3 separate regions of the Homo sapiens genome follow, and regions 1 and 3 are each linked to region 2. Evidence: fine-mapped expression QTL. A gene starts in region 2. Each other region holds a variant in brackets. All regions are shown on one strand. Distances are between the middles of the regions. Region 1 overlaps KL (klotho). Region 2 holds the start of KL (klotho). Region 3 has its middle 52 kb from the start of KL.

Region 1 (2,766 bases), 26 kb after region 2:
GTGCCAAAGTAATTGCAGTTTTTGCCATTACTTTTTAAATGGCAAAAACTGCAATTACTTTGGCACCAACCTAATACTGTAAGTATCTTTGAACTTACCAATCAAACATTACTACAACACTTGAATAAGAAACACTTCCATAGCATTTACAATTCTAAGTGCTTTCCATGTATTGACTTAGTTAATCCTCACAAGGATATAACCATGAGGTGCTATTACTATCCCTACTTTACAGATGAGGAAATAGAGGCACAGACTTCAGATAATTTGCCCAAGGTCCCACAGCTAATAAGGGGGCAGAATTAGGAAAGCCTGGCTGAGTCTATGCTCTCATCACTTGCTCAACTCTGCCTGGAATGCCCTTCCCGTACCCTCTACCGCCTCTGCCCAATCCTCCGGGTTCTCTGCTCCTTCCACACACCCCCATCTCAGGTCCCAGTCTTTTTTAGCATTCTTCACTTTTTCTGTTACAGATCCTCAGACAATGCTTCCTTGAAGAAGACTTGCCTGTCTAAACTGCCTTCCCATCCCAATCCCTGTTACCTTCTATCCTTTCTCTGCTTTGTTTTCATTTGTTATCTCTCTTCTTCCCAAGAATGTAAGCTCCATAAGAACAGGATCATATTTTGAATCCCCTAGAAAAGTGCCTAGTGTAATATTTGTTGAATGAATATGATCCCTGCAATTAAAAGCTAAATATATATATTTTTTTAACTAACAGATTACTGTAGTAGTTTCAAAGATGAATTTATGTTTCGGAGAAAATCAGTATTCTCTTGCCACATAAATTGTAGGTAATTATATTTCTATACCTGAATAGCTTTGCCAATGACTAAGATATTAATCTATTATATATTTATTAATCTATAGATCTTTAAAATTGATGCACATGTTTTATAAGCAATTTGATGAATTTTGATGACTACATACACCTGTATGTGTATGGATATCTGTAACAAATATCCAAGTAAAGATATAGAATATTCTCATTACCCCAGAAAGTTTCTTTGTGACTTCTAATCAATTCTCACCTCCGTAGGAAACCGCTGTTGTGATTCCCATCACCACAGACTGATTTTGGGACTTTATGTAAATGGAATCAAACAACTCTGTGAATGTACTCTGTGTCTGAGTTCTTTCAATCTACACAATCTTTTTGACATTAATCCATATTACTGCCTAGAAGAGTAGTTCACTCTTTGCATTAATGAATAGTATTCCATTGTATAAACAAACCACACTGTTTATACATTCTCCTGTGAATGGACATTTGTGTTGTTTTCAGTTTTCTGCTATTGCGATTTAAGCTACTATAAGCATTTTTTTTTAATTGTGATGGGGTTTCGCTCTTGTTCCCCAGGCTGGAGTGCAGTGGCAGCGATCTCAGCTCACTGCAGCTTCTGCCACGTGGGTCCAAGCGATTCTCCTGCCTCAGCCTCCCGAGTACCTGGGATTACAGGCATGTGCCACCACACCTGGCTAAGTTTCGTATTTTCAGTAGAGACGGGGTTTCACCATGTTGGTCAGGCTGGTCTCGAAGTCCTGACCTCAGGTGATCCACCCACCTCGGCCTCCCAAAGTGCTGGGATTACAGTCTTGAGCCACTGTGCCCGGCCAGCATCTTTGAACATATCAATTTGTAAGTTTTATCTTAATATTGTACAAGTCTTT[T/G]GGGGGGCTTATGTTGTCATTTCTCTTGGTAAATACCTAGGTATGAACTTGCTAGATTATAGAGAAAATCTATCTTTAATTTTATAAGAAACTGTCAAATAGTTTTCCAAAGTGGTGGTACTATTTATACTCCCACCATCAATGTATGAAATTTCCGTTGTTTTACGTCCTTGCCAGAATTTGTTGGTAGTCTTTTTTTTTTTTTGAGGCAGCATCTCACTGTGTTGCCCAGGCATACAATGGTGTGATCTCGGCTCACTGCAACCTCTGCCTCCCAGGTTCAAGGGATTTTCATGCCTCAGCATCCCAAGCAGCTGGGACTACAGAGGCGTGCCACCACACCCAGCTAATTTTTGTATTTTTAGTAGAGATGGGGTTTCACCATGTTGCCCAAGTTGGTCTCGAACTCCTGGCTTCAAGTGATTCGCCCGCCTCAGCCTCCCAAATTGCTGGGATTATAGGCGTGAGTCACTGTACCCAGCCTGTTGCCAGTATTTTTAGTTGTAGGCATCTTAGTGGGTGTGAGTGCTCGTTGGGGTTTTAATTTGCATTTTCCTGATAGTGTTGATGTTGAGGACATTTCTATGTGTTTACTGAGCATTGGTGAAGATTCTCTTGTGAAATATCTATTCAAATATTTTGCTCATGGTGGGAAGGGGAGTTATTTTTCTTTTACTACTGATAGGTAGGCTTACGTATTTATTTCGGATATAATTATTTTGTCAATTATATACTAATCATAAACAAAAACTGATAAATTGGACGACGTCAAAATTAAAACCTGCTCATCAAATGTTAGCGAAATGTAAAGGCAAATCACATACTGAGGGGAGATATTTTAATATATGTATATTTATATAGTGCTTTCTGTGTTCTAAGAAGTATTTTCCTACTCCAAGATAAAGAGACTATTCTCTTACATTTTGTTCTATAAGTTTTATAGTTTTAGCTTTTAGCTTTGGATCTATGATCTGTCTCAAATTTTTATGCAAGATTGGGGTTTAATTTTTTCATACACTTTTCCAGTTGTCAAGGATCATTTGTTGAAACGTCTTTCCTGTTGCCACATAATTGCTTTGATGCATTCGTTAGAAA
Region 2 (2,766 bases):
CATCTGCAACATTTAAAATGTTATTGCCTTTAAATTTGTATTAAATAATGCAGGGAAGATAGATCACTGGGGGAGAATGGATGCACCTCTGTGAGGATCTTGGTCATTCAACACACGTGTACGGGTGAGGAAACTAAGGCACGACTTACTGGGTAGGGAGGTAGGGATATTAGCAAGATCCTTCACTTGTCTGGGCTTTCTGTCTTTGAGTCACCTTTGCGCAGTTTTTCACTGGACTTCACAAGCCTCTGAGGCGGCAGGGCAGACAGGACATCCTTATTTTATAGAGGAGGAAACTTAGGCTTACAGAGGTTTCCTGCCCCAAATCACAAAGGTGGAGCCTAGACCTTCTCAGTCTCCACCAACTGTATTTCGGTTAGCCACAATCCTATCTACCCACATCCAAATGGACACTGTGGCTCTGCAACTTCTGTCAAAAGGGCTCTTTGGCAACAGGAAAAACGTCATGGCTCCATTGTATTGTAGAGGATGGGAATGGGTGTTCCGGCTAAATTCTCCCTCCCCTTTCCCTCCACAGCTCAGATGGCAAATGTGCGACCCAGGGACCTCCCGCTCCAGCAGACCTGTGCGCACAACTTTGCACAGATTACCTGCTAAGTCAGAGCCGAAAGGTAACACAGATGCCAAAGGATAATAAAGGTGAATGAGATTTACTCAAAATTGGAAACTTGGTGTTTGGTTTTTCAGGAGAACAATCAACGACTGTGATTTGAAGTTCACCAGGGTATTCTGAGAGATCTAATCAAAGATAGAGTGCTGGTTTGAAATTATTAAAAGGTAACAGTAAAAGGGAGAGCAAAACCCCAGTCCCAACGCAACCCATAAATCTACTTTGTCTTCCTCGAAAGAGGGGCGCGGGTGGGCGCGTCTCCCCGCGAGCATCTCACCTAAGGGGGAATCCCTTTCAGCGCACGGCGAAGTTCCCCCTCGGCTGTCCCACCTGGCAGTCCCTCTAGGATTTCGGCCAGTCCCTAATTGGCTCCAGCAATGTCCAGCCGGAGCTTCTTTGGGCCTCCGAGTGGGAGAAAAGTGAGAGCAGGTGCTTCCCCAGCGGCGCGCTCCGCTAGGGCCCGGCAGGATCCCGCCCCCAAGTCGGGGAAAGTTGGTCGGCGCCTTTTCTCCCCGACGAAGCCGCTCCAGGGCTGCTCTCAGAGGACGCGCGGCAGGCAAAGAGAATGAACCTGAGCGTCCACGAAACGTCCTGCACGGCTCCCGGGAGCTGGGAGAAACAGGTGCCTTTCTCCGACGTCCGCGGGCGACGCCTGCCGCACCTTGCCCGCTGCCGCGCCCCTCCCGGGCACCCCTCGCCCTCGGCGCCCCTGCCCCCGCCCCCAGTGCCAGGGCGGAGGCAGTCCCGGCTCGCAGGTAATTATTGCCAGCGGAGCCCGCCGGGGAGCGGGGGTGGGCGCGCCGGCGGTGGGCGGGCGGGCGCGGCGGGGCGCGGGCATAAAGGGGCGCGGCGCGGGGCCCCGGAGCCTGGCTCCCGCGCAGCATGCCCGCCAGCGCCCCGCCGCGCCGCCCGCGGCCGCCGCCGCCGTCGCTGTCGCTGCTGCTGGTGCTGCTGGGCCTGGGCGGCCGCCGCCTGCGTGCGGAGCCGGGCGACGGCGCGCAGACCTGGGCCCGTTTCTCGCGGCCTCCTGCCCCCGAGGCCGCGGGCCTCTTCCAGGGCACCTTCCCCGACGGCTTCCTCTGGGCCGTGGGCAGCGCCGCCTACCAGACCGAGGGCGGCTGGCAGCAGCACGGCAAGGGTGCGTCCATCTGGGATACGTTCACCCACCACCCCCTGGCACCCCCGGGAGACTCCCGGAACGCCAGTCTGCCGTTGGGCGCCCCGTCGCCGCTGCAGCCCGCCACCGGGGACGTAGCCAGCGACAGCTACAACAACGTCTTCCGCGACACGGAGGCGCTGCGCGAGCTCGGGGTCACTCACTACCGCTTCTCCATCTCGTGGGCGCGAGTGCTCCCCAATGGCAGCGCGGGCGTCCCCAACCGCGAGGGGCTGCGCTACTACCGGCGCCTGCTGGAGCGGCTGCGGGAGCTGGGCGTGCAGCCCGTGGTCACCCTGTACCACTGGGACCTGCCCCAGCGCCTGCAGGACGCCTACGGCGGCTGGGCCAACCGCGCCCTGGCCGACCACTTCAGGGATTACGCGGAGCTCTGCTTCCGCCACTTCGGCGGTCAGGTCAAGTACTGGATCACCATCGACAACCCCTACGTGGTGGCCTGGCACGGCTACGCCACCGGGCGCCTGGCCCCCGGCATCCGGGGCAGCCCGCGGCTCGGGTACCTGGTGGCGCACAACCTCCTCCTGGTGAGTGCGAGGGGCCAGGCGGAGGGCCACGCAGGGGAGACAGAGGGCCTCCACAGGGGCCAGGGGGAAGTGTGGGAACTGAGTCTCCCCCAGACGAGGCTTCACTTGGACACGTGTATGTGGTCACCGGGGGAAACTGAGCAGTTCTGACTTCCCTTGGAAGGCGTGGAATTAGGAGAGAAATCCCTTAGTGGGCACACGAGTGAGTGCCCCTTGGAGTCCATCTGTGGAAAGGAAGCGGTGATAGGTTTCCGCAGTGAGGAAAGAAACTCCTTTCTCTGGGTGTAGAGGAATTCCTAGAGGTGAGGGCGGGGAGGATTTGCTAGGAGTAACTGCAGGAAGAGAATGAGCAGGGTGGATGAAAGAAACACGTTTGTTCTTAAGCCGCACAGATAGCATTACTCTCTGGAGCTGTCACGAGTTCAGTGTTAATC
Region 3 (2,766 bases), 52 kb after region 2:
CCGGGCGTGGTGCTGTGCACCTGTAGTCCCAGCTACTCGGGAGGTTGAGGTGGGAGGATCACTTGAACTCAGGAGGTTGAGGCTGCAGTGAACTATGTTCATGCCATTGCACTCCAACTTGGGCAACAGAATGAGACCTGTCTCTGAAATAATAACAAGAAGACTCTATTAGAGCCTTGGAAGTTTTCCATTAAATTATTTATGATAGTGCTGTTCAACAGATACAAGCAAGCCATGTATTTCATTTTAAATTTTCTAGTAGTCATATTAAAAAATAAAAAGGCATAGAAGAGATAAATTTTAATAATATATTTTATTCTTTCCAGTATATCCAAAATATTGTATTTTCAACTTGTAATTGATATAAACATTATTGAGATATTTCACATTTTTTTTGGTACTAAGTAATTTTGGTACTAAGTAATTAGATTGGTCTATAGCATATTTGTTTAATATTTAATATTGAGCAATGCTGCTGGAAATTTGCACTTGGAAAGGAACATGTTAATTTGGAGCATGTTGGCCATCCTGGATGGGAGGACCTCGGTTCTAGAGGGGAAGGCAGAGGCCATGTCTTGTCTGGTATATTTTTTACAGTGTTTAGCGCAGTATCTCTTACATGATATTGTTCAACAAATGTTGATTAATTGAATACATGACGGAATAAATGATAAGCAGAATTAGCTCACTGCCATCACCTGTGCCCAGAGACTGGTTTAATAGAGATCACCTGTCAGCCAGCAATGACGATGTGTTAGATGCCACACAGCTCCATCCTATATATTCAGAGGAAGGAATGATAACCTGTCTTACTAGGTAGAGAGGCAGTAAAACTTACTGCTGTCCTAAATTGTTGCCTCCAGACAAATCACTAAGTGAAAGGTTGTAACTTTTTGTCTTCCTTATCCACATGTCTTTCAACTAGTCAGTAATCTTTCTCTCTCAGGCTGAGTTCTTTATCTGTAAACAAAAACAGTATTTTAGAGGAACCCTTTATGTCATCTCCAAATACTTAGTTTCCTAGAATGTGTAGCTTTTCCCCTCAGACCCATTGCATTTTTCCATTTTTATAACCACTAAATATTGTTGGAGTTTTGCTGGTTGTAGGACATTTCCTGGAACTTGTTTTTTCCATATCTTTGTGGTTAAACACCCATTGTCTGATATCAAGGAGAAAGAGGTCCAGAAAACCCACAGGGAACCTTGAGCAAAGGGTGGAAATGCCACTAATAATGGTGACAGGACACCTACAATATGGTGAAATCTTGTTTTACATGATTTCTGCATACCAGAAAAGACTTGGTGACTACTACTCAAGTCCCCCGACCTCTGCTTTTTTTTTTTTTTTTTTTTTTTTTTTTTTTTTTTTACCCATTGGGTTAGAGAAGAAAACAATTTCAACCTACATATTATTGAGATAAAAAGGCAGAGAAAGAAGAACAAGACCAGGCTCAAAATGACCTT[A/T]CAGTTGGGTAGTTTTGGGTAACGCAATCCTTGGTGAACTTCAGTTTCCTCATCTTTGAAATGGGAGTGTCTATCTTAGCACAGTGCTGAACATAGGAAATATTCAATACCTTGGGTATCTACCCCAGACGTTATTTTTTTCCTAGACTCATACAACTTACCCTTAATGTGCATGTGATTTCTTGTTAATCAGATATTTTGAGCTCAATAATGTAAAACTAGGGACTATTACAGTCAAAATGATTCATCCTGAAGCCTTCTAGTTATTTTATTTGTGACTTTGAATATACATTTTCATAGAATACCCTTGGTAAAACTAAATTTAGAAAAACGAAGCCCCACATTTACTTAATAATACCAAATTACCTTCTTGGATTCAAATTTTACAAATGTTGGATTGATAGAATTCTGAAGATAATTTGGCAGCAGATATTTCTGTATCAATATGTTGAACCATCTGCTCTTTTGAAATAATCTAATGACACAGACAAAACATTAAAATGTGTATATTTGTTATTTGGTTGGTAAATAATTGAAGGCTCATTAATTTTTATGAGATTCAAAAATCTCTGGTAGACTTTCTGATTTTAGTATAATTTTTCAATATGTTTACTTTATGGTAAAATGAATTAATGTTAAGTGACCTAATTTATTTTGTATACATTATCTTCAACGGAAACATTATTCCTTAATAAACTGCTGGAATAGACTGACCTTTTTTTCTGTTTAAAATCTCAATTGATCAGTTTATAAAATTCAATTTCCTTTCGATATTATACCAGTTGTTGTCTAATTATGGCTGTGACCATAAATTTTGCCTAAGACATTTCAGTTGGTTTTCCATGTGAATCAAAGCTTTGGATAATTTATATCCAACATGTTAGATGGCAAATTCAATAGTGTTCCAAGGTCACAGTATTGCATTTAAGGCATATTGGTTTTATAACCATATTTTTTCCCCTTTAAATTATGAGAACCACGAGTCTCTGGTAAGTAGCCCCAAGGCTTCAAAATACAACATTTCAATCAACAGGGGGCAGTAGTGGTAAGCCAGAGAGGACACAACAGAGATATAATTAGAGGAAGATGGATGGGTCAGATAGAGATATTTTATTAGTAAAAGACGAGATGAGATTGAACCAACTTTTATCCCAAATTGGTACCATGTTAAATGTCCTTATTTTACCTGTGCCTGTTATGGGCCTAACAATCCACCAAAACAAACACAATGTGGGGTTACTACGACCATCATGTTGACAGGATGAGCTGCAAGATTCCAGCAGTGTTGGCAACATGGCTGCA

Evidence for each region. PIP is the estimated chance that this variant, and not a neighbour inherited with it, causes the effect.
Region 1: its variant is the best candidate, but not a certain one, in a credible set for the expression of KL in sigmoid colon (GTEx, PIP 0.83).
Region 3: its variant is the best candidate, but not a certain one, in a credible set for the expression of KL in blood mononuclear cells (TOPMed, PIP 0.87).

Annotation. Positions count from the first base shown.
Region 1 is chr13:33,041,366-33,044,131 of GRCh38, forward strand. All of the region lies in intron 1 of KL (klotho), which reads left to right. Among named protein-coding and RNA genes, the nearest start is that of KL, 26 kb to the left of the region's middle. The variant T/G (reference allele first, on the strand shown) is at 1,672.
Region 2 is chr13:33,014,928-33,017,693 of GRCh38, forward strand. It overlaps KL (klotho), which reads left to right and starts at 1,496. Exons shown (of 5, transcript NM_004795.4): 1 at 1,496-2,332. The coding sequence starts at 1,514. LOC124903151 (translation initiation factor IF-2-like) reads right to left here and starts at 1,526. Exons shown (of 2, transcript XM_047430819.1): 1 at 909-1,526. The coding sequence starts at 1,515. RefSeq lists enhancers at 1,100-1,675, 1,676-2,253, 2,462-2,521 and silencers at 1,532-1,601, 2,292-2,391.
Region 3 is chr13:33,067,075-33,069,840 of GRCh38, forward strand. No RefSeq gene overlaps it. Among named protein-coding and RNA genes, the nearest start is that of KL, 52 kb to the left of the region's middle. The variant A/T (reference allele first, on the strand shown) is at 1,465.